2 separate regions of the Homo sapiens genome follow, and region 1 is linked to region 2. Evidence: fine-mapped QTL for protein levels in blood plasma. A gene starts in region 2. The other region holds a variant in brackets. All regions are shown on one strand. Distances are between the middles of the regions.

Region 1 (16,473 bases), 17 kb before region 2:
CTATAGTAAACCTCAGAGAAGATAGCCTCTTGCTTTTTTTTTTTTTTCATAGAGATAGGGTTTTGCTCTGTTGCCCAGGATGAAGTGGAATGGTGCGATCATGGCTCACTGTTGCAACCTTGAGCTCCTCAGACTACAGGGATGTGTCACCATGCGTGGCCAGCCCCCTGAGACAGGGTCTTGCTCTGTTGTCCAGTCTGGAGTGCACTGGCACAATCTTGGCTCACTGCAGCCTCAACTTCCTGGCTTAAGCTATCCCCTCACCTCAGCCTCTGGAGTAGCTGGGACTACAGGCATGGACCACCACACCCAACTAATTTTCTATTTTTTGTAGAGACGGGGTCTCAGTATGTTGTTCAGGCTGGTCTCCAACTCCTGGGCTCAAGGGATCCTCCTGCCTCAGCCTCCCAAAATGCTAGGATTACAGGTGTGAGCCACCATGCCCAGCTACCTCTTGTATTTTGAAATGACAAAAAGACCTTTTACATATTATATTTTCTCACTTGTTTTGTTCTACCATTCCTAAATGTCTTTCCAAACTGTAGTTTGTATCATGTAGTAAAGTTTAATGAAATATATATTTGGTCTTTTTCCCTGGTTCTGGCACAGGGCTCCTAAATTCCTTGGAATTTCCTGAGTGATAGGATTGTCTTTTGCTATTCATAAGGAGCCCCTTTAGAACACACCAGAGTCTATGCTAATGATGTGACTCAGGGTTGGGGCTGCTCACCAGAAAGACCAAATTAGAGGACTTTGATTAGAGGGTGGAAACAGCCCCACCCCAACCTCCTGGGAGGGAAGGGGGCTGGAGATGGAGCTCTATGAAAACTCCTGAACAAGGAGGTTCAGTGAGCTTCAGTACCAGTGGAGGGTGTCCAGGTTTTTGGCATTTTGAACAAAGAATTTAACAAGGGCCAGGTGCGGTGGCTCACGCCTGTAATCCCAGCACTTTGGGAGGCCGAGGCGGGCAGATCACGAGGTCAGGAGATTGAGACCATCCTGGCTAACATAGTGAAACACTGTCTCTACTAAAAATACAAAAAATTAGCCGGGCGTGGTGGCGGGTGCCTGTAGTCCCAGCTACTCGGGAGGCTGAGGCAGGAGAATGGCATGAACCTGGGAGGCAGAGGTTGCAGTGAGCCGAGATCACGCCACTGTACTCCAGCCTGGGTGACAGAGCAAGACTCCATCAAAAAAAAAAAAAAAAAAAAAGAGTTTAAGAAAACACACAACCAAGAAAAAAATGAAACAACAAAAGCAGAGAGTTATTGAAAATGAAAGTACATTTCACCAGGTGGGAGCGGGCCCCAGCAGCCACTCAAGGGCCCTGGATACAGAATTTTCTCCAGTCCAAATACCCACTAGAGGTTTCCCATTGGCCACTGGGTGTTCACCCATGTAAATGAGGTGAAGTAGTGGCCTGTAATCAGTCCGATTGGTTGCGGAAAGCAGAGGTGGGCGGATGATGAGGTCAAGAGATGGAGACCATCCTGGCCAACATGGTAAAACCCCGTCTCTACTAAAAATACAAAAATTAGCTGGGCGTGGTGGGTGCTAATGCTAATGCATTATAATTAGTGTATGATGAGCAGTGAGGAAGACCAGAGGCCACTCTCATCACCATCTTGGTTTTGGTGGGTTTTCCTGGCTTCTTTACCACAACCTGTTTTATTAGCAAGGTCTTTGTGACCTGTGTCTTGTGCTGTCCTCCTATCTCATCCTGTGACTAAGAATGCCTTAACCTTCTGGGAATGCAGCCCAGTAAGTGTGGGGGAATCACCTGAACGCAGGAGGTGGAGGTTGCAGCAAGCCGAGATGGTGCCACTGCACTCCAGCCTGGGCAACAGAGAGAGACTCTGTCTCAAAAAAAAAAAAAGGCAATTAATTAATTAATTAGAGGTACTTACAATTTCCCATCTGCCACAGAAAAGGTAGGGGTTTGCAAAGGGGTAGCCTCTGGTCCTTTTGTTACTTAGGCTTGGAAAGTTAGGATTTTCTTTTCAATTTAGTTCTAGGAAGTCAGCCCAAAACAGCCTTAGGTTCCCTGCCTCCAGACCCTGGTCTCCTGCCTCAAACATATCCACGCACTGCAAGGGTGGTGCACCTGCAGAGGGCAAGGAAGCTCCGCAGCCCCCCACTAAACCTTGTCCCATGCATCTCCTCCATTTGGCTGTTCCTGAGTTGTATTCTTTTTTTTCCTTTTCTTATTTATTATTTTTTTTTTTGAGACGGAGTCTCGCTGTGTCGCCAGGCTGGAGTGCAGTGGCGTGATCTAGGCTCACTGCAACCTCCACCTCCTGGGTTCAAGCAATTCTCCTGCCTCAGCCTCCTGAGTAGCTGGGACTACAGGCGCCCACCACCATGTCCAGCTAATTTTTGTATTTTTAGTAGAGACGGGGTTTCACCATGTTGGCCAGGATGGTCTGGATCTCTTGACCTTCTGATCCACCCGCCTCAGCCTCCCAAAGGGCTGAGATTACAGGTGTGAGCCACCGCTCCTGGCCAGAGGAAGAAATTCTTACCAGCCAAGTTTCTGGTCTCTCTCTCTCTGTATATGTTGTGTAAACGGTAAATGCCACTATTTGTCTTCTCTGCGAGGGTCTGATTAGTAGAAAAAAAGGATTTGTCAGACCAGTCTTAGGCTGTAGCAAATCTGGTGTACTTTATGCTAAGAATTTGTCTTTCTTTGTTGTTCTGTAATGAAGAGGGGAGTATCAGGGGATAGAACGTGGGTTTAGGATGCCTATAAGCCAAGTTTTCAAGCCAGCCCATCAGGCTGGTCATTTACAAATGTTGCTATGGGTCCCTGAAACCAATGCCAAATGACATTTCTCTGCCTTGTTTTGTGTCCATAAGAGCTTAACCTTGTGGCCATGTGGGGATACTTTATCTTGGTTTCTGCCATCTAGAGGACAGGAATTTTGGGGTTCATGTCATAGTTAGCCCTAAAAATTATCTTGAGCAGGCCGGTCGCGGTGGCTCACACCTGTAATCCCAGCACTTTGGAAGGCCGAGGCGGGTGGGTCATGAGGTCAGCAGATCAAGACCATCCTGGCTAATATGGTGAAACCCTATCTCTACTAAAAATACAAAAAAATTGGCCAGGCGTGGTGGTGGGTGCCTGTAGTCCCAGCTACTCGGGAGGCTGAGGCAGGAGAATGGCGTGAACCCGGGAGGCGGAGCTTGCAGTGAGCCAAGATCACGCCACTGCACTCCAGCCTGGGCAACACAGCAAGACTCTGTCTCAAAAAAAAAAAATTATCTTGAGCAGTTAAGAGCCTTTGAAATCTTGAATTTGGCTAGACTTCTTCTGGGAATAGCAATAGAAACTGCCCAGGGCTGGGTGCGGTGGCTCATCCCTGTAATCCCAGCACTTTGGGAGGCCAAGGTGGGTGGATCACAAGGTCAAGAGATCGAGACCATCCTGGCCAACCTGGTGAAACCCATCTCTACTAAAAATACAAAAATTAGCTGGGCGTGGTGTCACACACCTGTAGTCCCAGCTACTCAGGAGGCTGAGGCAGGAGAATCACTTGAACCCAGGAGGCAGAGGTTGCAGTGATCCGAGTCTGTGCCACTGCACTCCAGCCTGGCAACAGAGTGAGACTCCGTCAAAAAAAAGAAAAAAAAAAGAAGGAAACTGCCCAATGCTGTGTAGCTCAGTAGCTAAGGCTTTGTCCTTTGACAAGGGTGATCTGGGTTGAATTCTTGGCTTCTGGAATGATTCCTTTCTGGTTTGTTATTTGTGTAACTTTGCCATTATTAAGGTTATTTTTCCCCCCATAGATAGCTTCTGATTTCCTGTCTTGGATTTTCTTTTCTCTAAGCTACCCTTGGGGAGATTCTAAATGTTGTTTAAAAAAAAAAAAAAAGAGGAACTGCTGGCCAGGCACGGTGGCTTATGCCTGTAATCCCAACACTTTGGGAGGCCAAGGTGGGTGGATCACCTGAGGTCAGGAGTTCGAGACCAGCCTGGCCAACATGGTGAAACCCCATCTCTACTAAAAATACAAAAATTAGCTGAGTGTGGTGGCACATGCCTATAATCCCAGCTACTTGGGAAGATGAGGCAGGAGAATTGCTTGAAGCCAGGAGCCAGAGGTTTCAGTGAGCCGAGATGGAGCCACTGCACTCTAGCCTGGGTGACAGAGCAGGACTCTGTCTCAAAAAAAAAGAAAAGAAAAGAAAAGAAAAGAAACAAAATCACCATCCCAGACCCCTGTCAATATCACCATCTGCCCATCCCTCAAAGTCATCTGCCCCCCACCCCCAGAGCTCTGGTGGCTGTTCAGGTTGCTTGTTTTGGCCAGCTTCCTCACTAGCCTTGAAGGCAGGACTGACAGCTTGTTCACTGGTGTGTCTCTCATGTGCCTAGAAGACTTTCAAATATTTTTTTAAATGCTGGGATTTCCTAAATCGGAAAGGAAAAACTTCAGAGTCATTTGGACAGGTTTATTGAAGCTGAGCAGTTTCCCCATAATCTAGATGACTTCAGGTTACACGCTGTGTGGCTCTCTCCAGCCACGAGTCCTCGTCGCCAAATGGGATAGATAAACGTCTGTTCAGTCTGCAATATAATTTGGCATAAAGCTGCAGCCACAAGTGGGCTCTGCTGCTGGATGTGGATCAGGCTCTCTGGAATGTCTGTTTGCACACTTGACCTTCACAGAACATTTCCTAGGGCGTAAGGAGGAAGGGAAAAAGAAGGATCAGTTTGCATGTGGTCTGTTTTTACTCTCAACACTTATTTTTTATTGTGTTTTAACCCTTTTCTGGAACATGTTTTTTTCTTTTATGAGATGGGGTCTCACTCTGTCGTCCTGGCTAAGTACAGTGGTGAGATCTCGGCTCACTGTAACCTCTGCCTCCCAGGCTCAAGCGATCCTCCCACCTCAGCCCCCAAAGTAGCTGGGACACTGCAGGCACGTGCCATCATGCCCGGCTAATTTTTGTGTTTTTTGTAGGGACAGGGTTGCCACTGCCTAGGCTGGTCTTTTTTTTTTTTTTTTTGAGATGGAGTCTCACTCTGTAGCCCAGGCTGGAGTGCAGTGGTGCAATCTTGGCTCACTGCAACCTCTGCCTTTAAGCGGAATTGCCTTCAAGCAATTCTTCTGCCTCGGCCTCCTGAGTAGCTAGGATTACAGGTGTGTGCCACCATGCTCTGCTAATTTTTGTATTTTTAGTAGCGACGGGGTTTCACCATGTTGGCCAGGCTGTTCTTGAACTCCTGACCTCATGATCTGCCCGCCTCAGCCTCCCAAAGTGCTGGGATTACAAGCATGAGCTACTGCGCCTGACCCCTAGGCTGGTCTTGAACTCCTAGCCTCAAATGATTTTCCTGCCTTGCCCTCCGAAAGTGCTAGGATTATAGTTATAAGCCACCACACCTGGCCTACTCTCAACACTTCTGACACCAAAGGTGTGGGTTTTTAAACGCCTGACACCAGTTGTGTGATGTCTTTTCCAGTCCCACTTCTCCAACTCTCTGACACCAACCAAGTGTCCAGTAAGCCAATTTAATTTGGGCACTAACTACCCAGAGTTAGCACAGACTGCATAGGTTAAGGATGCAGTCTCACGAGACTCCCCCCAGCTTCAGACACCTGTCGCAAATTTGGGACCTCCCATATTTCTGACTGACCAGCTACAAATCAGGTTTTCCCACAACCCCTCCTCGGGCTTGATAATTTGCTAGAAGGGCTCACAAAACTCAGAAAGTCCCTTTACTTACTATTACCAGTTTATTATAAAATAAACAACTCAGAAACAGCCTGATGGGGCCGGGCGCACATGCCTGTAATCCCAGCACTTTGAGTGGCCGAGGCGGGCAGATCGCCTGAGATCAGGAGTTCTAGATCAGCCTGGCCAACATGGCAAAACCCTGTCTGTACTAAAAATACAAAAATTAGCCGGGTGTGGTGGTGCATGCCTGTAATCCCACCTACTCAGGACACTTGAGACAGGAGAATTGCTTGAACCCAAGAGGCGGAGGTTGCAGTGAGCCAAGATTGCGCCACTGCACTCCAGCCTGGGCAACAGAGCAAGACTCCATCTCAAAAAAAAAAAAAGAAAAAAGAAAGAAAAGAAAAGAAAAGAAACAGCCTGATGGAAGAGACGCATAGGGCAAAGTAGGAAGGGGGAGCACACAGCCCTCCCAGCACCTCAATGTATTCACCACACACATGAATGTTCACCGTTCAACATGGAAGCTCTCTAAACCCCGTGGTTTAGTTTTTAGTGGATGTTTCAGCACATAGGCATGACTGATTAAGTCAATGGCTATTTGTGATTAGTTCAATCTCCAGCCCCTCTTCCCTCAGGGATGAGGCTGAAAGTTCCAACCCTCTAATCATGCCTTCGATTTTCTGGTGACCATCCCCCATCCTGAAGCTATCTAAGGACCCTCAGTAGACAGTCATGTCGTTAACACACAAAAGATCTTTTTTTTTATTTGGAGACAAGGCCTTACTCCTTTTTTATTTGGAGACAGGGTCTTACTCCTTCGCCCAGGCTGGAATGCAGTGGTGCAGTCATGGCTCACCTTAGCCTCAACTTCCTGGGCCTAAGTAATCCTCCCACCTCAGCCACCCAAGTAGCTGGGACTACAGGCACCCATCACCATGCCCAGCTAATTTTTTTTAATTTTTTGCGACGGAGTCTTGCTCTTGTTGCCCGGGCTGGAGTGCAATGGCGCGATCTCGGCTCACTGCAACCTCCACCTCCTGGGTTCAAGTGATTATCCTGCCTCAGCCTCCTGAGTAGCTGGGACTACAGGTGCCCGCCACCACACCCGGCTAATTTTTGTATTTTTTAGTAGAGACAGCATTTCACCATGTTAGCCAGGCTAGTTTCCAACTCCTAACGTCAGATGATCCACCTGCCCCGACCTTCCAAAATTCTGGGATTACAGGTATGAGCCACTGCCCCCAGCCAATTTTTTGTAGAGACAGAGTCACACTATGCTGCCCAGGCTGGTATTAAACTCCTGGACTCCAGTGATCCTCTTGCCGTGTCCTCCCAAAGTGCTGGGATTACGGAAGTGAACCACCACACCCAGCAACCAAATATTTTTTAATATATCATGGTGGCTGGGCGCGGTGGCTCATGCCTGTAATCCCAGCACTTTGGGAGGCTGAGGGGGGTGGATCACCTGAGGTCAGGAATTTGAGACCAGCCTGACCAGCATGGTGAAACCCTGTCTGTACTAAAAATATAAAAATTAGCTGGGCATGGTAGCGGGCGCCTGTAATCCCAGCTACTTGGGAGGCTGAGGCAGGAGAATCACTTGAACCCAGGAGGAGGAGGTTACAGTGAGCTGAGATCAAGCTACTGCACTCCAGGATGGGCGACAGAGTGAGACTCTGTCTGAAAAAAAAAAAAAAAATCATGGTAAGTAAGAAGCATTCCATGAGTATCCTTAGAACAAAAGTACTTCTGTGCCCTGCATGGGCAGATTTCCAGGGTATGCTAGAGAAGGATGTACACATTTGGTATTTCTCTTTTTTTTTTTTTTTTTTTTGAGACAGTTTCACTCTTGTCATCCAGGCTGGAGTGCCGTGGCGCGATCTTGGCTCTTGGCTCACTGCAACCTCCTCCTCCCAGGTTCAAGTGATTCTCCTGCCTCAGCCTCCCGAGTAGCTGGGATTACAAGTGCCTGCCACCACACCAGGCTAATTTTTGTATTTTTAATAGAGACGGGGTTTCGCCATGCTGGCCAGGCTGGTCTCGAACTCCTGACCTCAGGTGATCCACCTGCCTCGGCCTCTCAAAAGTGCTGGGATTACAGGTGTGAGCCACCATGCCCAGCCTTCCTTTTCTTTTTTTTTTTTTTTAAAGACAGGCTAGTCCTACGTTCCCCAGGCTTGACTCAAACTCCTGGGCTCAAGCAATCTTCCCGCTTTGGCCTATCCAGTAACTGGAACTACAGGCAAGTACCACCACACCCAGCTGTTGTGCATAATTTGAACATTACCTCTTACAAACCAACTAATCTAAATCCTCAAACATATGTATATATTCTTTGAAATTCCATATTACGTATTTGCGAAGGCAAGTTTCTTACTTTGTTTTTTTTTTTGGAGACAGAGTCTTGCTGTATCCCCCAGGCTGGAGTGCAGTGGCATGATCTTGGCTCACTGCAACCTCTGCCTCCCGGGTTCAAGCGATTCTCATGCCTCAGCCTCCTGAGTAGCTGGGATTACAGGTGCCTGCCACAGCCCGGCTAATTTTTTTTTTTTTTTTTTTTTTGAGATGGAGTTTCACTCTTGTTGCCCAGGCTGGAGTGCAATGGTGCAATCTCGGCTCACCGTAACCTCCTCCTCCCAGGTTCAAGTGATTCTCCTGCCTCAGCCTCCTGAGTAGCTGGCATTAGAGGCATGCGCCACCACTCTCAGCTGATTTTTTTTTTAAATATTTTTTAGTAGAGACGGGAGTTTCTCCATGTTGGTCAGGCTGGTCTCAAACTCCCGACCTCAAGTGATCCACCCACCTTGGCCTCCCAAAGTGCTGGGATTACAGGCATGAGCCACTGCGCCCGGCTCCGCCCAGCTAATTTTTGTATTTATAGTAGAGATGGGGTTTCATCATGTTGGCCAGGCTGGTCTCGAACTCCTGACCTCAGGTGATCCGCCTGCCTCAGCTTCCCAAAGTGCTGGGATTACAGGCGTGAACCCGTAATCCCATGCCTGACCTCTTACTTTTTTATCGTCAGAAGAGTGTGAGATTTGTCCATCTAGAATCAAAATATCTTCAAGGCCTTGGTATTCAAAGACTACCCAGACCCAACTTTAAGGACAGTGCTCTAGTTTTGTTCTCATGGGTCTCACCTAGATTTCACACATACAGTGAGGCAAAAAAGCACAGAGCTGAGAGCACACATTCTTGTCAGACCTGTATTTGAATCTTCACCCTACAGTGTGAAAATACGTAATTCACAATCAAAGCTGATGAAACTTTAAATTATTTTGAGTCTTAAAGGAATGTGATTGTGGGACCTGAGTCATGTGAAAGGCCGCTGTAACCTAGACAGCTATAACCTTAATTTCTCTGGTTATAGATTAGCCTTTTTCTTTACCTACACTGTTTTGTAAAAAACTAAAGGGCACCAGAGAAGACTTCCCTCTACTGTTGATCTTAATTACAGACTCACTTCCCTGTTTCTTCTCTCTTTTTTTTTCCCAAAGCAGGTGAACCTCTTCCTTCTCTAATACAAAGACAGATGACTATCACGTTGTCTAAGATGGAATGTTAAATATACTCTTAAGATGACAGCAAGAATGAGGGGGAAGAAAAATAAAATAAAGAATGTTAAATATATTCTTTAAACTGGAAAGAAAAAGGAAAAAACTGAGTGGTAACTAATCAAATTCCTGTAACTCATAAAACAGCTTTGTATAGAAAATGTTGTAATCCTGCGAAATTTCTTTGTTTTCTGTCTGTCGGGTGGCTCACGCTTGTAATCCCAGCACTTTGGGAGGCCAAGGCGGGCAGATCACCTGAGGTCAGGAATTCGAGACCAGCCTGGCCAACATGGCAAAACCATGTCTCTACTAAAAATGCAAAAATTAGCTGGGCATGGCCGGGCATGCTGGCTTACACCTATAATCCCAGCACTTTGGGAGGCCGAGGTGGGCGGATCACCTGAGGTCGGGAGTTCAAGCCCAGCCTGACCAACATGGAGAAACCCCGTCTCTACTGAAAATACAAAATTAGCCAGGCGTGGTGGTGCATGCCTGTAATTCCAGCTACTTGGGAAGGCTGAGGCAGGAAAATCGTTGAACCCGGGAGGTGGAGGTTGTGGTGAGCCGAGATCGCACCATTGTACTCTAGCCTGGGCAACAAGAGCGAAACTCCGTCTCAAAAAAAAAAAAAAAAAATTAGCTGGGCATGGTGGCGGGTGCCTGTAATCCCAGCTACTTGGGAGGCTGAGGCAGGAGAATCCCTTGAACCCAGGAGGTGGAGGTTGCAGGGGGCCGAGATTGCGCCACTGCACTCAAGCCTGGATGACAGAGGGAGACTCTGTCTCAAAAACACAAACAAAAACAGGCCAGGCACAGTGGCTCACGCCTGTAATCCCAGAACTTTGGGAGGCAGAGGCGGGTGGATCACCTGAGGTCAGGGGTTTGAGACCAGCCTGGCCAATATGGTGAAACCCTGTCTCTACTCAAAATACAAAAATTACCCAGGTGTCGTGGCATGCACCTGTAGTCTCAGCTACTTGGGAGGCTGAGACAGGAGAATTGCTTGAACCCAGAAGGCAGAGTTTGCAGCGAGCTGAGATCATGCCACTGCACTCCAGCCTGGGCAACAGAGCAAGACTCCATCTCAAAAACAAAACAAAACAAAACAGGCTGTAAAATAATAGTTGTCAGCACATGGCCTCTAGGGAATGTTTTGGAGTGATTGACTTGTCTGAAACTGGATAATGGGAATGGTTGTACACCTGTATACATTTACTAGAAATTATCAAACTGTACACTTAAAACAGGTGCATTTTTTGGTACATAAAGTATACCTCAATAAAGCCATTAAAGAAAAACACCTCAAGTCCAACAGCTTAAAAGTAAAAGAAGAAAAAGAAAAAGAAAGGAAAAGAAAAACTCCAAGAATTACATTCCAAGAAATTAAATTTTTATTACAAGCGGCCACGCCTGTAATCCCAACACTTTGGGAGGCCCAGGTGGGCTGATCACTTGAGGTCAGGAGTTCGAGACCAGCCTGGCCAATATGGTAAAATCCCGTTTCTGCTAAAAATACAAAAACTAGCTGGGTGTGGTGGTGCATGCCTGTAGTCCCAGCTACTCGGGAGGCTGAGGTGGGAGGATCGCTTGAACCCAGGAGGCAGAGGTTGCAGTGAGCTGAGATCACACCACTGCACTCCAGCGTGGGTGACACTGGGTGACAGAGGGAGAGACTCCATCTCAAAAAAAAAAAAAAAATAAGACATTAACTTTTCAGCTTGGGTGTACTGACCCCATTTCTTTGGAGTCTGTGTTTCCTGGGTGGCCATTCTCATCTTCATGCCTGAATAAACCCTTATTTTGTTTTATTTTTTTTTGAAACGGCCTCTGTCACCAGGCCGTAGGGCAGTGGTGCGATCTTGGCTCACTGCAACCTCCGACTAACTGGTTCTAGCAATTCTCCTGCCTCAGCCTCCCAAGTAGCTGGGATTACAGACATGTGCCACCATGCCCAGCTAATTTTTGTATTTTTAGTAGAGACGGGGTTTCACCATGTTGGCCAGGATGATCTTGATCTCCTGACCTCGTGATCCGCCCACGTCAGCCTCCCAAAGTGCTGGGATTACAGGCGTGAGCCACCTCGCCCAGTCTGAATAAACCCTTTTAAACTGGATTCTGATGCTTCTGACAGCAGCCTTGGGGAATTTCAAAATCCCAATTTATTTGTGAATGGGAAAAATGGCGTCCTTTTCACAGGGTTGTGAAGATTAGATGAGATAATGCACTCAAAGGATTGAGCACAGTAATTGGGCCCAAAATAATCACTCCAAAGATGTGAGCTACTATATCTATCTATGCATATCTATGTATACATAAAGTAGCTATTACATATAATAGGTAAGAATTGTTCCATGAGTATTTGCATGTTATCTTCCTGCCTCTGTCGGAATATTCGGCTGTTTCATTTAATATAAGATGAGAGTGAGTATAGGCATGCGCCACTATGCCCGGCTAATTTTTGTATTTTCAGTAGAGATGGGCCAGGTGTGGTGGTGGCTCATGCCTGTAATCCCAGCACTTTGGGAGGCCGAGGCGGGTGGATCATGAGGTCAAGAGATCGAGACCATCCTGGCCAACATGGTGAAACCCCGTCTCCACTAAAAATACAAAAATTAGCTGGGTGTGGTGGTGCGTGCCTGTAGTCCCAGCTACTCGGGAGGCTGAGGCAGGAGAATCGCTTGGACCCAGGAGGTGGAGGTTGCAGTGAGCCGAGATCGCGCCACTGCACTCCAGCCTGGTGACACAGCGATACTCCATCTCAAAAAAAAAAAAAAAATAGTAGAGATGGGGTTTCACCATGTTGGCCAGGCTAGTCTCCTGACCTCAAGTGATACACCCACCTCGGCCTCCTAAAATGCTGGGATTACAGGTGTGAGCCACCACGCTTGGCCTGATGTTTCCTTTAATACTGTATCATCTCATTAAGAACAAAATGTGGTGGATACCAGGTGGAGTTTGTCTCCTT[C/T]GATCCAATGGGTCCAGCCTCTGTTCTTCTTTTCTCCCTTCTGGATACAGGTGAGCCTGTCATTGTCCCAGATAACCAAACTCTGCATGAAGAGAGGAGAAAATGTTAGCTTGTCCTGGCAGGATCCTCAAGTGTTACGAAGTAGAATGCCAAGTTACCCTTGCAAAATCAACAGCCTACTTACTGCTTTTTTTTTTTTTTGAGATGGAGTCCCACTCTGTCACCCAGGCTGGAGTGCAGTGGCACGATCTTGGCTTACTGCAACCAACCTCCACCTCCCGGGTTCAAGTGATTCTCCTGCCTCAGCCTCCTAAGTAGCTGGGATTACAGGCTCCTGCCAGCACGCCCCCCTACTTTTTGAATTTTTTTCTGTAGAGACAGGGTTTTGCCGTGTTGCCCAGGCTGGTCTCAAACTACTGACCTCAGGTGGTCCGCCTGCGTTGGCCTCCCAAAGTGTTAGGATTACAAGCGTAATCCACCGCACCTGGCATTTCTTTACATTTTACCTTGCATTTTCTGTTGTCCAGGCCTCTGTTATCTTCATCAAATTCTTCTCCAACTTTAAATTTCACAAAGTAGTTCCTTAGGCTGCTGTTCGTGTGGATGGTAAAAGAATCCCCATTCTGCTCAATCACTTTCTGTGGCTTCAGCAACTTGGCTATTTTACGAGTGGCAAAGTCAATACCTTAAAAATAATTTTTAAAAATATTTGAACATTCGCTTGAGATACAAAAGTGAAGAATTTGGTAGCTGTTCTCAAAATCACCACATGTAATTGTTAGCATTTCCTGTACGACTTCTATGTTGTTTGCTGCCAAAATCAGATCTACAAGGAATCGTCTTGGCAAACTGCCAACCACAGCCTGATTAAAAAGTTTGCAAATGCCAGGTGCAGTAATTCCAGCACTTTGGGACACAGAAGACAGGAGGATTGTTTGAGCTTAGGAGTTTGAGACCAGCCTGGGCAACATAGCAAGACCCTGTCTCTATAAAAAAATAAAAACTGTAGGCCAGGTGCAGTGGCTCACACCTGTAATCCCAGCACTTTTGGGAGGCTGAGGAGGGCGGATCACCTGAGGTCAGGAGTTTGAGACCAGCCTGATCAACATGTAGAAACCCCATCTCTACTAAAAATACAAAATTAGCCGGGCATGGTGGCACATACCTGTAATCCCAGCTACTTTGGAGGCTGAAGTAGGAGAATTGCTTGAACCCAGGAGGCGGAGGTTGCAGTGAGCCAAGATCACACCACTGCACTCCAGCCTGAGCAACAGAGCGAGACTCCATCTCAAAAAAAAAGAAAGAAAAAGAAAACCAAAGGGACAGGGCTTAGGCCCCCCAACCCAGCCTCAGTCATAACTCTGCCTTTTTCTGCCTTATGTATTTACACTTTGAATTAAGAGAGCATTTGAACAGTTTCTCAACAAGAATGAAAACAAAACTCAAAAACCACTGGATTCATGTATATACCTCTCTCTCTCTCTCTCTCTATATATATATATACACACACACACACACACACACACACGTATATACTTTTTTTTTTCTTTTTTTTTTTCCGAGACACAGTCTCACTCTGTCGCCCAGGTTGGGGAGAGCAGTGGCACGATTTCAGCTCACTGCAACCTCCACTCCCGGGTTCAAGCAATTCTCTTGCCTCAGTCTCCTGAGTAACTGGAATTACAGGCTTGCATCACCACACCCAGCTATATACTACTATGTATTTATAATTTTTTTCTTTTTTTGAGACAGGATCTCATTCTGTCACCCAGGCTGAAGTGCAGTGGTGCAATCATGGCTCACTGTAGCCTCAACCTTTCAGGCTCAAGTGATTCTCCTATCTCAGCCTCTCGAATAGCTGGGACTACAGGCACATGCCACCATGCCTGGAAATGTTTTAAATATTTTTTTGTAGAGATCAAGTCTCACTATGTTGCCCAGGTTGGTCTCGAACTCTTGGGCTCAAGCAATCCTCTCACCTCAGCCTCCCAAAGTGCTGGGATTACAGACATGAGCCACCCTGCTCGGCTAGAATTCTTAAATAAGCTTTAAAGAAGAGTTCCACAGGGAAACATGGAATGCTAAGAAGATGAAGATCAGGGTTTGGAATCCCAGTTCCACTTACTGCCTTTGAGCATATTATGTAGCTAGAAATAAACACCACTATTTTAAATAATGGCCAGGTGACGTCTCAGCGGGGAGCTGAAAGAAGTAAAGAATCAAGCCACACAGATTTCTGGGAAAATAGTTTAAGGCAGAAATCCAGGGAGCCCTGGGACTCTGAGGAAGGGTGTGCCAGTGTGTTTCGGGAACTCTGAGGAGCCTAGTGTATCTGCCGCAGAATCGGGGAGAGGGAGGAGGAAGGAGAGGAGTTAGAGATGAGACGTGATTCTGCCAGCCGTGGTGGCTCATGCCTGTAATCCCAGCACTTTGGGAGGCAGAGGCAGGTGGATCACCTGAGGTCAGGAGTTCAAAACCAGCCTGGGCAACATGGCAAAACCCCATCTCTACTGAAAAACAAAAATTAGCTGGGCATGGTGGTGCACCCCTGTAATCCCAGCTACTCGGGAGACTGTGGCAGGAGAATTGCTTGAACCCAGGAGGTGGAGGCTGCAGTGAGCCGAGATCGTGCGACTGCACTCCAGCCTGGGCAACAGAGCAAGACTCCGTCTCAAAAAAAAAAAAACCCAAACAACAACAACCAAAAATAAAACAATAGTATAAATGTCCTCATCCTAAGAAAAAATTTTTGTAGCCAGGCACAGTGGCTCATACCTGTAATCCCAACACTTCTGGAGGCCAAGGTGGGAGGATCACTTGAGCCCAGGAGTTCAAGACCAGCCTGGACAACATAGCAAGACCCCATTTCTATAAAAAAATAAAAACAGCTGAGGCTGGGCATGGTGGCTCACACCTGGGTCGGGCTGAGGCAGGAGAATCAGTTGAACCCAGGAGGCGGAGGTTGCAGTGAGCTGAGGTCGAGCCACTGCACTGTAGCCTGGGGACGGAGTAAAACTCCATCTCAAAAACAAACAAATGAACAAACAAACAAATATCTCAAAAAAACAGCTGGGCATAGTGGTACATGCCTGTAGTCTCAGCTGCAAATAAAAAAGCTTGTGTGTGTGTGTTTAAATCTAGAACTCCAGTTTTTAGTTTGAGATGCAATATGATCCAGGCTTTACTGGTTTTCAACAATATTTAAATATTTAAGTATTGAGACCAAAACCTTAAAATCACTTCCTATTATTATTATTTTTTTGAGACAGGGTCTCATTCTGTTGCCCAGGCTGGACTGCAGTGGTGCAATCTCGGCTCACTGCAGCCTTTGCTTCCCAGGCTCGAGAGATCTTCCCACCTCAGCCTCCCAAGTAGCTGGGGCTACAGGCATGTGCCACCACACCTGGCTAATTTTTGAATTTTTCTTTGGTAGAGATGAAGTTTCACCATGTTACTCAGGCTCATTTCCTATTATTAATATGACCAAGCCAAACTTACTGCTGACTTTCCTTAAACCCTATTATGTAAGCAAATCAAAACCCAATAACTTTAGACTAACAATGAGTTTAGAGTTACGCTTTTAAAATCTGTGAGGCGCCGGGCACGGTTGCTCATGCCTGTAATCCCAGCACTTCGGGAGGCCGAGGCGGGCAGACCAACGCGACCAGCCTGACCAATATGGAGAAACCCCGTCTCTACTAAAAATACAAAATTAGCCGGGCATGGTGGCGCATGCCTGTAATCCCAGCTACTCCAGAGGCTGAGGCAGGAGAGTCGCTTGAACCTGGGAGGCAGAGGTTGAGGTGAGTTGAGATTGCACCATTGCACTCCAGCCTGGGCAACAAGAGGGAAACTCCATCTCAAAATCAATCAATCCATCAATCTGGCTGGGCGCAGTGGCTCATGCCTTAATCCCAGCACTTTGGGAGGCAGAGGTGGGCGATCACCTGAGGTCGGGAGTTGGAGACCAGCCTGACCAATATGGAGAAACCCCGTCTCTACTAAAAATACAAAATTAGCTGGGCGTGGTGGGGCATGCCTGCAATCCCAGCTACTCAGGAGGCTGAAGCAGGAGAATTGTTTGAACCGGGGAGACGGAAGTTGCGGTGAGCCGAGATCCCGCCATTGCACTCCAGCCTGGGCAACAAGAGCAAAACTCCATCTAAAAAAAAAAAAAAAAAAAAAAAAATTGTGAGGCAGGCCAGGCGTGGTAGTTCACACCTGTAATCCTAACACTTTGGGAGGCTGAGGAGGGCAGATCACCTGAGG
Region 2 (14,656 bases):
TCATGCCTGTAATCCCAGCACTTTAGGAGGCCGAGGCAGGCAGGTCACCTGAGCTCAGGAGTTCGAGACCAGCCTGGCCAACGTGGTGAAACCCTGTCTGTACTAAAAATATAAAATTAACGGGGTGTGGGGGCGTGTGCCTGTAATCCCAGCTACTTGGGAGGCTGAGGCAGGAGAATTGCTTGAACCCGGGAGACGGAGTTGCAGTGAGCCAAGATCCGTGCCACTGCACTCCAGACTGGGCAACAAAGGGAGACTCTGTCTCAAAAATAAATAAATAAATAAATAAATAAATAAATAAACTAATTAAATTAAATAAATATATCCCAGTGTACACAGTAATCTGGGACAAGTTAGTAACACCACCACCTTCTTGGGTTCATAACAGGACTAAAGGCGAGGACTTGCACAAGTTAGTCAATATCTGTGGGCATTAACATGGGGCTTCTCCATTTCTGAAGCACGCACCTTCAGTGTCCTTGGCTGCTGTGGGGGTACACCAGGAACTCCCAAATCCCAGGTTAGCTCCAAATATTAAAACCCAAGCAAGGCAGAGGCAGGAGGATTGCATGTGGCCAGGAGTTTGAGACCAGCCTGGACAACACAGCAAGACACCGTCTCTACAAAAAAATTGAAAAATTGGCCAAGTGTGGTGGTATGCACCTGTTGTCCCAGCTACTTGGAAGGCTGAGGTGGGAGGATCGCCTGAGCCCAGGAAGTGAAGGCTGCAGTGAGCCATGATCGCACCACTGCACTACAGCCTGAGCGACAGAGCAAGACCCTATCTCAAAAAACCCAAGTAAACTTGCTTCTTTGTGCAAAGACAAGCTGCCTTTCTTCTCACTGCGGTTTGGCAAATGCTGGGAGAGAGTGATGCCAGAGCCCGGGTGGGAGCTGCAGGATCAGTTCCTGAACACTAGTTTTTAGACAAAAGGGAGTGATTTTCTGCCCTCAAATGAGATGCCAGCTGGAGCACATCATGAGATGTGTGCTGTGTATTTGCTGGTGACTTATTTGACCCTTAGCATCACTGCCAACAGGCATTTACCTCACTTCTACTACTAAAAAAGAGGCAATCAGCCAGGCACGGTAGCTCACGCCTGTAATCCCAGCACTTTGGGAGGCCAAGGCGGGTGGATCACGAGGTCAGGAGTTCAAGACCAGCCTGGCCAAGATGGTAAAACTCCGTCTCTATTAAAAATACAAAAATTAGCCAGGAGAGGTGGTGGGCACCTGTAATACCAGCTACTCAGGAGGCTGAAGCAGGAGAATTGCTTGAACTCAGGAGGCAGAGGTTGCAGTGAGCCGAGATCGCACCACTGCACTCTAGCCTGGGCAACAGAGAGAGACTCCATCTCAACAACAACAACAAAAAAAGAGGCGATCATTTATTATTTTCCTAGACCCTACAGTTTAAAGATCTAAGTACTATATCTGTGATTTTTTATGGAATGTATTTTCCTTACATGTACATGAACAAGCATATAAATTTAAAGTTAATTATATATTCAAGTAAATCAGTAAAATTCAAGATTGCTAGCTGAATTTTTTTTTTTGTCTTATTGACTTATTTTTTTTGAGACCAAGTCTCATGCTGTTGCCCAGGCTAGAGTGCAGTGTCGTGATCTGGGCTCACTGCAACCTCCACCTCTCAGGTTCAAGCGATTCTCGTGCCTCAGCCTCCCAATTAGCTGGGACTACAGGCATGAGCCACCATGCCTAGCTAATTTTTGTACTTTTAGTAGAGATGGGGTATTTCACCATGTTGGCCAGGCTGGTCTCAAACTCCTGACTTCAGGTGATCCACCCACCTCGGCCTCCCAAAGTGCTGGGATTATAGGCGTGAGCCACCTGCCCAGTCTGCTAGCTTAATTATTTTTTTTCAAGATGGAGTCTTGCTTTGTCTCCCTGGCTAGAGTGCAATGGCGCAATCTCGGCTCACTGCAACCTCCACCTTCTGGGTTCAAGCAATTCTCCTGCTTCAGCCTCACAAGTAGCGGGATTACAGGTGCATGCCATCATGCCCAGCTAATTTTTTGTATTTTTAGTAGAGGTGGGGCTTCACCATGTTGGCCAGGCTGGTCTTGAACTCCTGACCTCATGATCCACCTGCCTCAGCATCCCAAAGTGCTGGGATTACAGGTGTGAGCCACTGCACCCAGACCAACTTAATTCTTAAGATAAAATGTATTATAGTATTATGGCTGGGCACAGTGGCTCACACCGAGATCGCGCCACTGCACTCCAGCCTAGGCAATAGAGCCAGACTCCATCTAAAAAAAAAAAAAAAAAAAAAAGAGTATTACAGTATTATGTAAACAACCACTCTAGTGCTATAAGTGTGACCTAAGTACTTAGCACTTTAACAAATTGATGTAAGTACTTAGTACTTTAACAAATTAGATCTGAAGTTGAAACACAGTTGCTGGTTTTCAGAAAACCGTTCTGGATTTAAGGGTTTCTGGATAGGCGACCTCAGAACATGGCACCTTATGTCCATTTTCACGCTGCTGATAAAGACATATCCAAGAGTGGGTAACTTATTATTATTATTATTTTAGACAGAGTTTCACTCTTGTTGCCCAGGCTGGAGTGCAATGGCACCATCTCAGCTCACTGCAACCTCTGCCTCCTAGGTTCAAGTGATTCTCCTGCCTCAGCCTCCCAAAGTAGCTGGGATTACAGGCGCCCGCCACCATGCCCAGCTAATTTCTTTTTGGTATTTTTAGTTGAGACGGGGTTTCACCATGTTGGCCAGGCTGGTCTTGAACTCCTGACCTCAGTTGATCCACCCGCCTCAGCCTCCCAAAGTGCTGGGATTACAGGCGTGAGCCACCGAGCCTGGCAAGAGTGGGTAACTTATAAAGAAAAAGAGGTTTAACTGCCGCAGTTCCACGTGGCTGGGGAAGCCTCAAAATCATGGCAGAAGGCAAAAGGCACGTCTTACATGGTGGCAGGCAAGAGAGAATGAGAGCCAAATGAAAGGGGAAACCCCTTGTAAAACCATCAAATCTCATGAGACATTCACTACCACCAGAACAGTGTGGGGAAAACTACCCCATGATTCAATTACCTCTCCTCAGGTCCCTCCCACAACACATGAGAATTATGGGAACTACAACTCCCATGAGATTTGGGTGGGGACACAGCCAAACCATATCACTTGGCATTTGAGGAAATAACAGTAGCAGGAAGGTCCCCCTCAGACCTTCTTTTGCCCCTCTTCCCTGAAGCAGGCCATAAAAGAATTCTCTGCTCTTCCTCTGAAGAAGATCATAAGACTCTCAAGTGAGAGGTGCTTTTCCCATACCCAGAGGAACACTCTTATCTCTTGGGATATGAAAGAGCAAAATAAATGCCCCTTTATCAACTAAGATGGGCCCTAAGGTTAAGAAAACAAAAATTGGCCGGTGCGGTGCCTCACGCCTGTAATCCCAGCACTTTGGGAGGCCAAGGTGGGCAGATCACGAGGGCAGATGTTCGAGACCAGCCTGGCCAACATGGTGAAACCCCGTTTCTACTAAAAAATACAAAAATTAGCTGGGCGTGGTGGCGGGCGCCTATAGTCCCAGCTACTCGGAGAGGCTGAGGCAGGAAAATGGCGTGAACCCGGTAGGCGGAGCTTGCAGTGAGCCGAGATCGTACTACTGCACTCCAGCCTGGGCAACAGAGCGAGACTCCGTCTCAAAAAAAAAAAAAAAAAAGAAAGAAAGAAAGAAAGAAAAAAAGAAAACAAAAATTGCCCACGGGTCAAGGGTTCAGGGATTGGCCGGCACGGCAACTTCCCAGATTCCTAAAGCTACAAGAAAAACTACACTCGTGGCAGGGCGCGTGGCTCACACCTGTAATCCCAGCACTTTGGGAGGCCAAGGCGGGTGGATCACCTGAGGTCAGGAGTTGGACACCAGCCTGACCAATATAGTGAAACCCCTTCTCTACTAAAAGTACAAAATTAGCCGGACGTGGTGGCTGGCGCACGCGTGTAATCCCAGCTACTTGGAAGGCTGTGGCAGGAGAATCGCTTGAACCGAGGAGGCGGAGGTTGCAGTGAGTTGAGAGTCCGCGCACCGTTGGCACCGCGATGAGGGCGGGAAGCACAGCGCGGGGCCCCCGGGAGCAAGAACGCCGCGGGCACCCAGCCCTCGTGGGAGGCGGCGGTCGGGGCACGCCCCGGGCCGAACCAGGCTCTGCACTCCCGCGGGTGCCCGGACCTGAAGGGTCGTCCGCTGGCTCCAGGATTCTGCATCCCCGACCCGCTCCGGGTGCGCCGAGGCTGCTGGGACTTCGCTGCGGGAGCGCGCCCGGGGCCCCGGGGCCTGCACGGAAGGCGGCTGCGGGGAGGGTGGCCGGGCAGAGGCTTCGGTCCCGGGCGCCCCCTCCCCGGCCGGACCCCCCTCCCCGGCCGGACCCCGAGTCTGCAGTCTCCGCAGGTGTGCCGCGTGCGGGTAGAGACGGACGTGGGGCTGGACGCGGGCACTCAGGGACGGACGGGTGGGGGACCGACGGCCGGGGGAACAGAGGGCGTGGAGAGACGGCCGTGGGGACAGGGGGGCGGGTGGGCGCGGGAAAGGACGGACTGGGGGACTGAAGGACTGGGGTCCCGCGCCCGATGGACGGAGGCGCCAAGGACCAGCGGACTCGGGGGCGACTGGGCGACGGTGGGCGCAGCAGGGCGGAGGCACGGACAGAGGACGTACCTACAGGCCCGGCCCGGCCGCCTTCGCCTGATCCCGAGACCCACGGCGAGCCTCGCGCCGCCGCCGCCTCCCCTCCGCCTTACCTAGGGCCAGCATGTAGCCCTCGAAGTTGTCGCTGCTGAGCAGGGTCCAAGTACCGCTGAGGTCGGCGGGCATGGTCGGGGATCGCGGGACAAACCCGGCGGGCGGCCGGAGGCTCGGGCCGGGACCTATAAACCAGGCGGGGCGGGGCAGGGGGGTGGGGCCGCGCGCGGGAGGAGCAGGTGGGGCCGCGTGGGTCCCACTCACCCCTAGAAGCCGCTGCGCTCCCGGCCGCCTCAGCCCGGTGCTCCTGGCTCTGCCCACCGCGCGGCAGCTTCCCCCTTTCCTTGGGGCTTCCTCTCCTACTGCTTTCTCATGTCCCAGACTGTTTCGGGCCACATTTTCTTCCCTGCTTATATGTTAATGACCCAGGGATGATCTTCAAACTCATGGCATTGAATATTGTCAGCTTCAATAACAATATACCTCTCAACGTAACTCTCATGGTCTCAATAAATAGGAGTTTATTTTTCTTAACAAGGAGTCCTGAGAGAAGTGATTGCTGGTGATGATTCGCACCTAGGAATCACAGTGATTCGCACCTCGGTAACGCCGCAGCTTCGTCTCTGTGACTCTGGTGGCCTTTTATTCCTGCTTGTTACCTCCTGGTCATGAGCTGGCAGCTGGGTTCCCAGCCAGGACATCCACATTCAAGGTAGGGAAGAGGGAAAGCACCAAAGGTCAGTATCCCTGCAGCACAAACCTCCCCATCTCCTATAAGTCTGGATAGTTGGAAAAAAGAAAAGAAATTACCCAGCAGGTTTCTGTGTACATTTCATTAGCCAAAACTGTATCAATGCCACTTCTAACTGCAAGGGGGCCTGGGGATTCTAGTCTGCAGCATTTAGCCTCAGAGCAGAGAAAAGCAAAGGAGAAGGGGTGGGAATATGGGCTAACCTACAACATTAGCCACAAACACCGCCTAGATATGCTGGCTCCAAGACTGACTTATTGATTTTATTTTTATTTTTTTTCTTTTGAGACAGAGTCTCACTCTTTCTTTTTTCTTTTTTTTTTTTTTTTTGAGACGGAGTCTCGCTCTGTGCCCAGGCTGGAGTGCAGTGGAGAGATCTCGGCTCACTGCAAGCTCCGCCTCCGGGGTTCACGCCATTCTCCTGCCTCAGCCTCCCGAGTAGCTGGGACTACAGGCGCCCGCCAACACGCCCGGCTAACTTTTTATATTTTTATTAGAGACGGGGTTTCACCGTGTTAGCCAGGATGGTCTCGATCTCATGACCTTGTGATCCGCCCGCCTTGGCCTCCCAAAGTGCTGGGATTACAGGCCTGAGCCACTGCGCCCGGCAGAGAGGGAGTCTCACTCTATCGCCCCGGGCTGGAGGGCAGTGGTTCCATCTCGGCTCACTGCAACCTCCGCCTCCCAGGTTCAAGTGATTCTCCTGCCTCAGCCTCCCGAGTAGCTGGGATCACAGGTGCCCATCACCATGCCCAACTAATTTTTTGTATTTTTAGTGGAGATGGGGGTTTCATCATGTTGGCTAGGCTGGTCTTGAGCTCCTGACCTCGTGATTCGCCTGCCTCAGCCTCCCAAAGTGCTGGGATTATAGGTGTGAGCCACCGCACCCGCGGTATTTATTTTTTCATTTATTCTTTTTATTTTATTTTATTCTATTTTATTTTTTGAGACAGACTCTCACTCTGTCGCCTAGGCTGGAGTGCAATGGTGCAATCTTGGCTCACTGCAACCTCCGCCTCTTGGGTTCAAGCAACTCTCCTGCCTCAGCCTCCTGAGTAGCTGGGATTACAGGTACCTGCCACCATGCCTGGCTAATTTTTATATATTTTAGAAGAGGTGGAGTTTCACCATGTTGGCCAGGTAGGTCTCGAACTCCCAACCTTAAAAGATCCACCCACCTAAGCTTCCCAAAGTGCTGGAATTACAGGCATGAGCCACCACACCCAGACTGACTATTTTTTGAGATAGAGTCTTGCTCTGTTGCCTAGGCTGGAGTGCAGTGGTATGATCATGGTTCACTGTAGCCTCAACCTCCTGAGTTCAAGTGATCTTCCTGCCTCAGCCTTCTAAGTAGCTACAACTACAGGCATGTGCCACCATGCCTGACTAATTTTTTTAATTTTTTATAGAGATGGAGTATCCCTGTGTTGCCGGCGGTTGGTCTCAAACTCCTAGGCTCAAGCAACCCTCCAACCTTGGCCTCCCAAAGTGCTGGGATTACAGGTGTAAGCCACTGTGTCCAGCTCAAGATTTATATGTCAATTTATGACCTCTCCCATGAGTTCCAGACTCAAATATAATAAAAGCTAGCAGTCCGTGCATGGTAGCTCACACCTGTAATCCCAGCACTTTGGGAGACCGAGGTGGGTGGATCACCTGAGGTCAGGAGTTTGAGACCAGCCTGGTCAACATGGTGAAACCCCATCTCTACTAAAAATACAAAAAATTGGACAGGCGCAGTGGCTCAAGCCTGTAATCCCAGCACTTTGGGAGGCTGAGGCGGGCAGATCACGAGGTCAGGAGATCAAGACCTTCCTGGCTAACATGGTGAAACCCTGTCTCTACTAAAAATACAAAAAAATTAGCCGGGCGTGGTGGCGGGCACCTGTAGTCCCAGCTACTCGGGAGGCTGAGGCAGGAGAATGCGTGAACCCAGGAGGCGGAGCTTGCAGTGAGCCGAGATCGCGCCATTGCACTCCAGCCTGGGGGACAGAGCAAGACTCCGTCTCAAAAAAAAAAAAAAATACAAAAAATACAAAAAATTAGCCAGGCATGGTGGCGGGCACCTGTAATCCCAGCTACGTGGGAGGCTGAGGCAGGAGAATCGCTTGAACCCAGGAGGCAGAGGTTGCAGTGAGCCAAGACCGTGCCATTGCACTCCAGCCTGGGCAACACGAGCCAAACTCTGTCTCAAAAATAATAAAATAAAAAATAAAAGCTAACATTTGGCTGGGGACAGTGGCTCACGTTCGTAATCCCAGCACTTTGGGAGGCTGAGATGGGTGGATTGCCTGAGGTCAGGAGTTTGAGACAAGCCTGGCTAACATGGTGAAACCCCGTCTCTACTAAAAAAATACAAAAGTTAGTCAGGTGTGGTGGCACACGTCTGTAGTCTCAGCTCCTGGAGAGGCTGAGGCAGGAGAATCACTTGAACCCGGGAGGCAGAGGTTGCAGTGAGCAGAGATTGTACCATTGCACTCCAGCCTGGGAGACGGAGTGATTCTGTTGCAAAAAAAAAAAAAAAAAAAAAAAAAAAAAGCTAACATTTGTTGAGTGCTATGTGTATTATTATTTGTTGCAAAATCCTACTTCTCCAATAGTTATTTTATTAACTCCCTTTGACAGAGCTAAAAACTGAGGCATAGAGAGGTTAACTAACTTGCCCGAGGTCATATAGTTGGCAGAGTCTGGATTCAAACCCAGGTAACCTGCCTGCACGTTCAGTGCCACCTCTCGCCTCCTACTTGACGTCTCCACTTGGCTATCTTAAAGGCATCTGAAACTTGACGCAGCTAAGCTAGAAAGTGTAAGAACAAAATTTTTTCCAGCTCTCCTTATCTCCATACATTCCATTAGGCCCCTGGATGCTCAAGCTAAGAATCCAGTAGATTTGTGAATTTCCATCTTCTCTGCTGGCCAAAATCCAGTCCCTCAGCAAGTCCTCTTGGTTCTACCATCTTAACCCAAGTCCCCATCATCTCTTGCCAGGACCACTTATAAAAATCTTTCATCTGGACCTGCTGCTTCCCTTCTGAGTCCCTCAAAACAATTCTCCATACGCAGCCCCGGCAAGCTTTTAAGGAATGTAATTCAGATCTTCTCACTCCTTGCTTACAGCCCTTCAGTATTGTCCTGTCTTTCTTTTTTCTTTTCTTTTTTTTTTTGAGATGGGGTGTTGTTCTGTTGCCCAGGCTGGAGTGCAGTGGCACAGTCTTGGCTCACTGCAACCTCCACCTCCTGAATTCAAGCAATTCTGTCTCAGCCTCCCGAGTAGCTGGGACTACAAGCGCATGCCACTACACCCGGCCAATTTTTATATTTTTAGTAGTGATGAGGTTTCACCGTATCGGTCAGGCTGATCTCGAACTCCTGACCTCAGGTGATCCACCCACCTAGGCCTCCTGAAGTGCTGGAATTACAGGTGCGAGCCACCGCTCCTGGCCTGTCCTGTTTTTCTTAAAAGGAAATTTGCACTCTCTCTCATGGTTAGGTTCACAAAGTCCTTCCTGGTTTGGCTCCTGGCTACTCCTCCACCAGCAGTACATCCTGTCTCCCCCAACTCAGTTCCTCTAATCACATCACACCCTTTCCTTCAGAGTCTTGGTATTTGGTGTCTCCTCTTTCTGAGATGTTTTTCCTCCTAGTTTTTGCCTGGTTAGCTCCTTTGGCTTCCAGCTCAAAAGTCACTATTAGGGGTACAGTCTTTTCTTTTCTTTTTCTTCTTTTTTGAGACCAAGTCTCGCTTTGTTGCCCAGGCTGGAGTGCATTGGTGCGATCTCCACTCACTGCAAGCTCCGCCTCCTGGGTTCACACCATTCTCCTGCCTCAGCCTCCTGAGTAGCTGGGACTACAGGCACCCGCCACCACACCCAGCTAATTTTTTGTATTTTTTAGTAGAGATGGGGTTTCACTGTGTTAGCCAGGAAGGTCTCGATCTCCTGACCTTGTGATCCACCCACCTCGGCCTCCCAAAGTGCTGGGATTACAGGCGTGAGCCACCACGCCCGGCCATAGGGGTACAGTCTTTTCTAGTCATGGTCTCCATGGAGAGGAATTGTCCCTAAACGCCCCTGGCCTCTGCTCATCCTCTTAGGATTGGAACAACTAGGACTGAAGGAGTGCCTGGGACATGGAACTCTTGCTGCTAACATTGGAAAAGCCCCTGGTAAACTGGGATGAATGCTTGCTCTCGGGGCAACAGCCACTGAACCGTTTTCGTCAACTAGGTAGAGGTAATCTATAAAAAAATTATAATCCTAGGCTGGGCGTGGTGGCACATGCCTGTAATCCCAGCATTTTGGGGCCGAGGAGGGAGGATCATTTGAGCCCAGGATTTTGAGATCAGCCTGGGCAAGATGGCAATGTCCTGTCTCTATAAAAAATAAAAAAACTAGCTGGGTGTGGTGGTATGCACCTGTAGTCCCAGCTACTCGGGAGACTGAGGTGGGACGATCGCTTGAACCTGGGAGGTCGAGGCTGCAGTCAGCCGTGATGGAACCATTGCACTCCAGCCTGAATGACAGACTGAGACCGTCTCAAAAAAAAAAAAAAATCTAAACCTAAAGTATTTATTTACTTACTTATTTATTTAGAGACAGAGTCTCGCTTTGTCACCCAGGCTGGAGTGGGGTGGCTCAACCTCTGCCTCCCAGGTTTAAGAAATTCTCCTGCCTCAGCCTCTAGAGTAGCTGGGATTACAGGCGTGAGGCACTGTGCTCAGCCCTTTTGTTGCTTTTTTTTTTCGTCTTATTTTTCAGTTGGTTTAGAATGTGGACAGAAAAGTACTTGGATATCTTCAAGAACTTGAGAGCCATCTTCTCAGAACAGCCTTCCTATATGCTCCTAATACACACTTACTCCACATCACATCTCTGCTTACGTCCTTTATCATTATTATAATCCATAATTATCTTTTTTCTTTTTTATTGACTGCCTTTTCCATGAAGCTTTCCAGGGCAGAGCCCATGTTGATTTCATTCACCACTCCTGTATCTCCAGGGTCTAGCACAGTGCCTGGTAAGTACTCAATAAATGTTTGTTGACTGACTGACTGACTGGCTATGACCTTTTCCAAGGGAGAAATGCCATTTTCATTGAGAAGCCAGAGTGACATCACCTTGCCCATAATGAGCTAGCTGTTGATTCTCATAACTGTAAGACATAGATTCCAGGCTTGGTGCGGTGGCTCACGCCTGTAATCCCAGCACTTTGGGAGGCTGAGTTAGGAAGGTCACTTGAGGTCAAGAGTTCAAGACCAGCCTGGCCAACAGGGTGAAATCCCATCTCTACTAAAAACAAAAATTAGCCAGGCTTGTAATCCCAGCTACTGGGGAGGCTGAGGCAAGAGAATTGCTTGAACCCGGGAGGCAGAAGTTGCAGTGAGCTGAGATTGCACCATTGCACTCCAGCCTGGGTGAAGAGGCAAGACTTTGTCTAAAAAAAAAAAAAAAAAAATTCAGCTGACTAAGAGAACAGGATATGCAGAAATCTTACTTACTTCCTATTCTTAAAATCTTATTGTTCTAAAACTTGGCCTGAAAATGAAAATCACAGAAAAAACTAATAATAGTTTTAACCTTCGTGCTGGTTGGTATGGCTTCTGGCCAGCTTGAGCAAGGGTCATCTATTATGGACAGGATTTAATTTCAGCTGAAGTAGACATAGACTCCACTTGCCATAGGATAAGGAGTAATTTTTTTTTTCTTTACAATTCTAATATCTTCCTAGACAGGACTCAAGGTTATCTCTGGAAGGAGAAGCATAATTTATTTGGTCAAATTTGAGCCCTTTCTTTCCTTCTGTTTGGTGCTGGCAAAGTAAACCAGAAGATTACAGCCAAGACTGAGGTCCTAAACCTGTGTACAAGCACTGTTCTTCCTAGACAGCAATGGATGGGGATTGCTGAGGGCCACTTTATCATGGAACCTCTCATCTGTTGCTTGATGGAGTCTGATGCTGGTTCAGCAAAGACTGGCATGGACCTTGTGGTGGACTCCACACCATCCATACCTCCCCTCCCTACTGCAAGAATGCAATGCCAATAGGCAGTTTGGTCTGGCTCCTGAAGGTAGACCTGGATTAGTATCAGGCTAAACCAATCCCGGAAACCCTATTAGCTTAGCCAGTGATCAGCTTTAGGGAGAAGCAGGTTTAAATGACTGAATCAGCCAGTGAGATGCGATGAGGAGTTTGAAAGGGCTGTTGGAAAAGATGTTTCTTTGATTTTAACAGAGCCATGGGGAGCCATGAGGAGTCACTCCTGAACATGAACTAGGAAGCCTGGCTACTGGTGACCCTCCTATAACTCAAGGGCACTAGATTTAAGACACTGTGACTGGAAGTGTAGAGGGATGGAAAGAACCCGGGTCCCCGATGACAGTGTTGACTCACAGCACCTACAAACCTACACACCTTCCATTCTGCCCTATGTCTGTACTTCTGAGTATAGATGTCCGTGTTTAGATCACTTTGAGTTGAGCTTCCTGCTACTTGCAATGAAAAAAAATTCTGATACATTTTGAAGCAGGGTATTTCCCTGACCCCTTCATTGGCAGGAACTGGAATGCAGGGGCGCTGGAACTAGCCAGCCACTTTGGCGCTGGCAGGGGCCATTCCACTCACTTGGACCTGCTGTGTTCCACCCCTTATGGGAGGCGGAGCATGCAGGTGAGCGGGTGCAGGAGCTGGGGCAAGTGCTTTTGGGCACCTGAAGGAGCAAAACTTTGTGTGGGCCCCGCAGCAGCATCTGGTGAGGGTGCCTGCAACCCCTGAAGCCCCAGAAGGGGTGTTACAATGCCCTTTTAGCTTTGCTGTGGACAGCTTAAGTGTTAACAGCTCAGTGGAGGGTCAGTGTGACAGGCTTTTGTACCCGCACTTGTGGTACCCAAGTTCTTGTCCAGTGTCCAGGAGGAATGAGGTAGCACAAATGAATTGAAGATGGTAAATGCATGGAAATTTATTGCCAATGAAAGTGACTCTCAGTGGGAAGAGGAGCTGAAAGGAGGATGGAGCAAGAAGGTAATCTTCCCCTGAAGTCCAGCCGTCCCTGGCTGGACTCCTCTTCAAAGCTACACCATGAAGCTGTCCCTCTGAAGTCAAGCCACTTATTTCTGCCGTCCAACCGTAGTCTCCAATATCCAGCTGCTTCTCCACTCTCTGCTGGCTGAGCTTGGTTTTTTTTTTTAGACTGAGTTTTGCTCTATCACCTAGGCTGGAGTGTAGTGGCGCGATCTTGGCTCAGTGCAACCTCCGCCTCCTGGGTTGAAGTGATTCTCGTGCCTCAGCCTCCTGAGTAGCTGGGATTACAGGCGCCCGCCACCATGCCTGGCTAATTTTTGTATTTTTAGTACAGGTGGGGTTTCGCCATGTTGGCCAGGCTGGTCTTGAACTCCTGACCTCAAGTGATCTGCCCGCCCTGGCCTCCAAAAGTGCTAGGGTTACAGGCTACTGTGCCCAGCTGAGCCTGGGGTTTTCATGGGCACAGGATGGGGGGTGGGCCATGGGTAGTTATGGAAAAGGCAACTTTCAAGAGGGCAAACAGGGATGTAAATGCTCACTTTGGGCCATAGTATCAGGCTTTTCAGCTCCAGGTGGGGAGCCCTCATTGGGGACCCACCCTCTTCTGCCCAGAATTTCTCTGCCTCCTTTCCTTAGCAATATCATAAATAAAATCAAGGTACTTTTGGCTGGGCACAGAGGCTCATGTTTGTAATTCCAGCACTTGGAGGGGCAGAAGTGGGAGAATCACTTGAGGCCAGGAGTTAGAGACCAGCATGACAAAACCCCATCTCTACTAAGAATACAAAAATTAGCTGGGTGTGGTGGCACACGCCTGTGATCCCAGCTACTCAGAAGGCTGAGGCACGAGAATCACTTGAACCTGCGACCATCTCAAAAAAAAAAAAATCAAGGTACCCTTTTTTTTTTTTTTTTTTTTGAGATGGAGTCTCGCTCTGTCACCCAGGCTGGAGTGCAGTGGCGCGATCTTGGCTCACTGTAACCTCTGCCTCCCCAGGTTCAAGCAATTCTCCTGCCTCAGATTCCTGAGTAGCTAGGACCACAAGTGCCTGCCACCATGCCTGGCTAATATTTTTGTACTTTTATTAGAGACGGGGTTTCACCATGTTGGCCAGGCTGGTGTCGAACTCCTGACCTTAGGTGATCCAAATGCCTTGGCCTCCCAAAGTGCTGGGATTACAGGCATGATTCATCACACCCAGCCAAGGTACCCTTTCTTCTTAAGCAGCTTTCTTATGATTATTTATCCATTTGAGAGCAAAATTATGGTTCAGTTTCGAACATGCTTAAGTTGCTGAAGATATAAATGTTAAATAAAATACTACTTTGGTTGGGTGTGATAGCTCACACCTGTAATCCCCACACTTTGGGAGGCCAAGGCAGGTGGATCATTTGAGGTCAGTTTGAGATCAGCCGGGCCAACATGGAGAAACCCTGTCTCTATTAAAAATACAAAAGTTAGCTGGGCACGGTGGTGTGCGCTTATAATCCCAGCTACTCGGGAAGCTGAGGCAGGAGAATTTCTTGAACCTGAGAGGTGGAGGTTGCAGTGAGCTGAGATCGTGCCACTGCAATCCAGCCTGGGTGACAGAACAAGACTCTGTCTCAAAAAAAACAACAACAACTAAAAAAACCATACTTCATGCTAGACCAGCTTATGAAGTGGGAAATAAGTAAGTAAATAAAAATTTTGAAAATCACTTTATGAATACTATTGTCTCAACAAAAGTGTGGCTGGAGACTTGGGTCTTCTGCTTTGGTGACATTGATACTTTTAGCTGCACTATTTCATTTTTTTTGAAACAGGGTCTCAGCTACACAGGCTGGAGTGCAGTGGGGTAATCACAGCTCACTACGCCTCCAGATCCCAGGCTCAAGCAATCTTCTCACCTCAGCCTCCCAAGTAGCTCAGACTACATGCACAAGCTACCATGCCTGGCTAATTTAATTTAATTTAATTTAATTTATTTATTTATTTATTTTGAGACGGAGTCTTGCTCTGTCACCCAGGCTGTAGTGCAGTGGCACAATCTCGGCTCACTGAAAGCTCTGCCTCCTGGGTTCACGCCATTCTCCTACCTCAGCCTCCCAAGTAGCTGGGACTATAGGCACCCGCCACCTACGCCCGGATAATTTTTTGTATTTTTAGTGAGACGGGGTTCCACTG

Direction of the effects. Positions count from the first base shown, and alleles are read on the strand shown. Strength reflects both the effect of a copy and how common the allele is.
For the plasma level of the protein whose gene starts at base 4,884 in region 2, C is the high allele of the variant in region 1 and T is the other (moderate association).

Evidence for each region. PIP is the chance, under the fine-mapping model, that this variant and not a neighbour inherited with it causes the effect. Protein levels are from antibody-based Olink assays in UK Biobank. Linkage for the fine-mapping came from a reference panel and not from the study's own genotypes, which makes the PIPs less certain.
Region 1: its variant is fine-mapped to the plasma level of the RBP7 protein (UK Biobank, PIP above 0.99). The variant lies in the coding sequence of RBP7. If it changes the protein, the assay may bind it differently, which can mimic a change of level.

Annotation. Positions count from the first base shown.
Region 1 is chr1:10,003,986-10,020,458 of GRCh38, reverse strand. It overlaps RBP7 (retinol binding protein 7), which reads right to left. Exons shown (of 4, transcript NM_052960.3): 2 at 12,711-12,889; 3 at 12,185-12,286; 4 at 4,438-4,677. The coding sequence ends at 4,627. Among named protein-coding and RNA genes, the nearest start is that of RBP7, 15 kb to the right of the region's middle. RefSeq lists a silencer at 12,962-13,162. The variant C/T (reference allele first, on the strand shown) is at 12,205.
Region 2 is chr1:9,987,456-10,002,111 of GRCh38, reverse strand. It overlaps RBP7 (retinol binding protein 7), which reads right to left and starts at 4,884. Exons shown (of 4, transcript NM_052960.3): 1 at 4,781-4,884. The coding sequence starts at 4,853. It overlaps LOC124903840 (basic salivary proline-rich protein 2-like), which reads left to right and starts at 4,023. Exons shown (of 2, transcript XM_047436754.1): 1 at 4,023-4,430; 2 at 5,260-5,393. The coding sequence starts at 4,082. The coding sequence ends at 5,393. It also overlaps a transcript of NMNAT1 not described here. RefSeq lists silencers at 2,935-3,135, 10,547-10,841.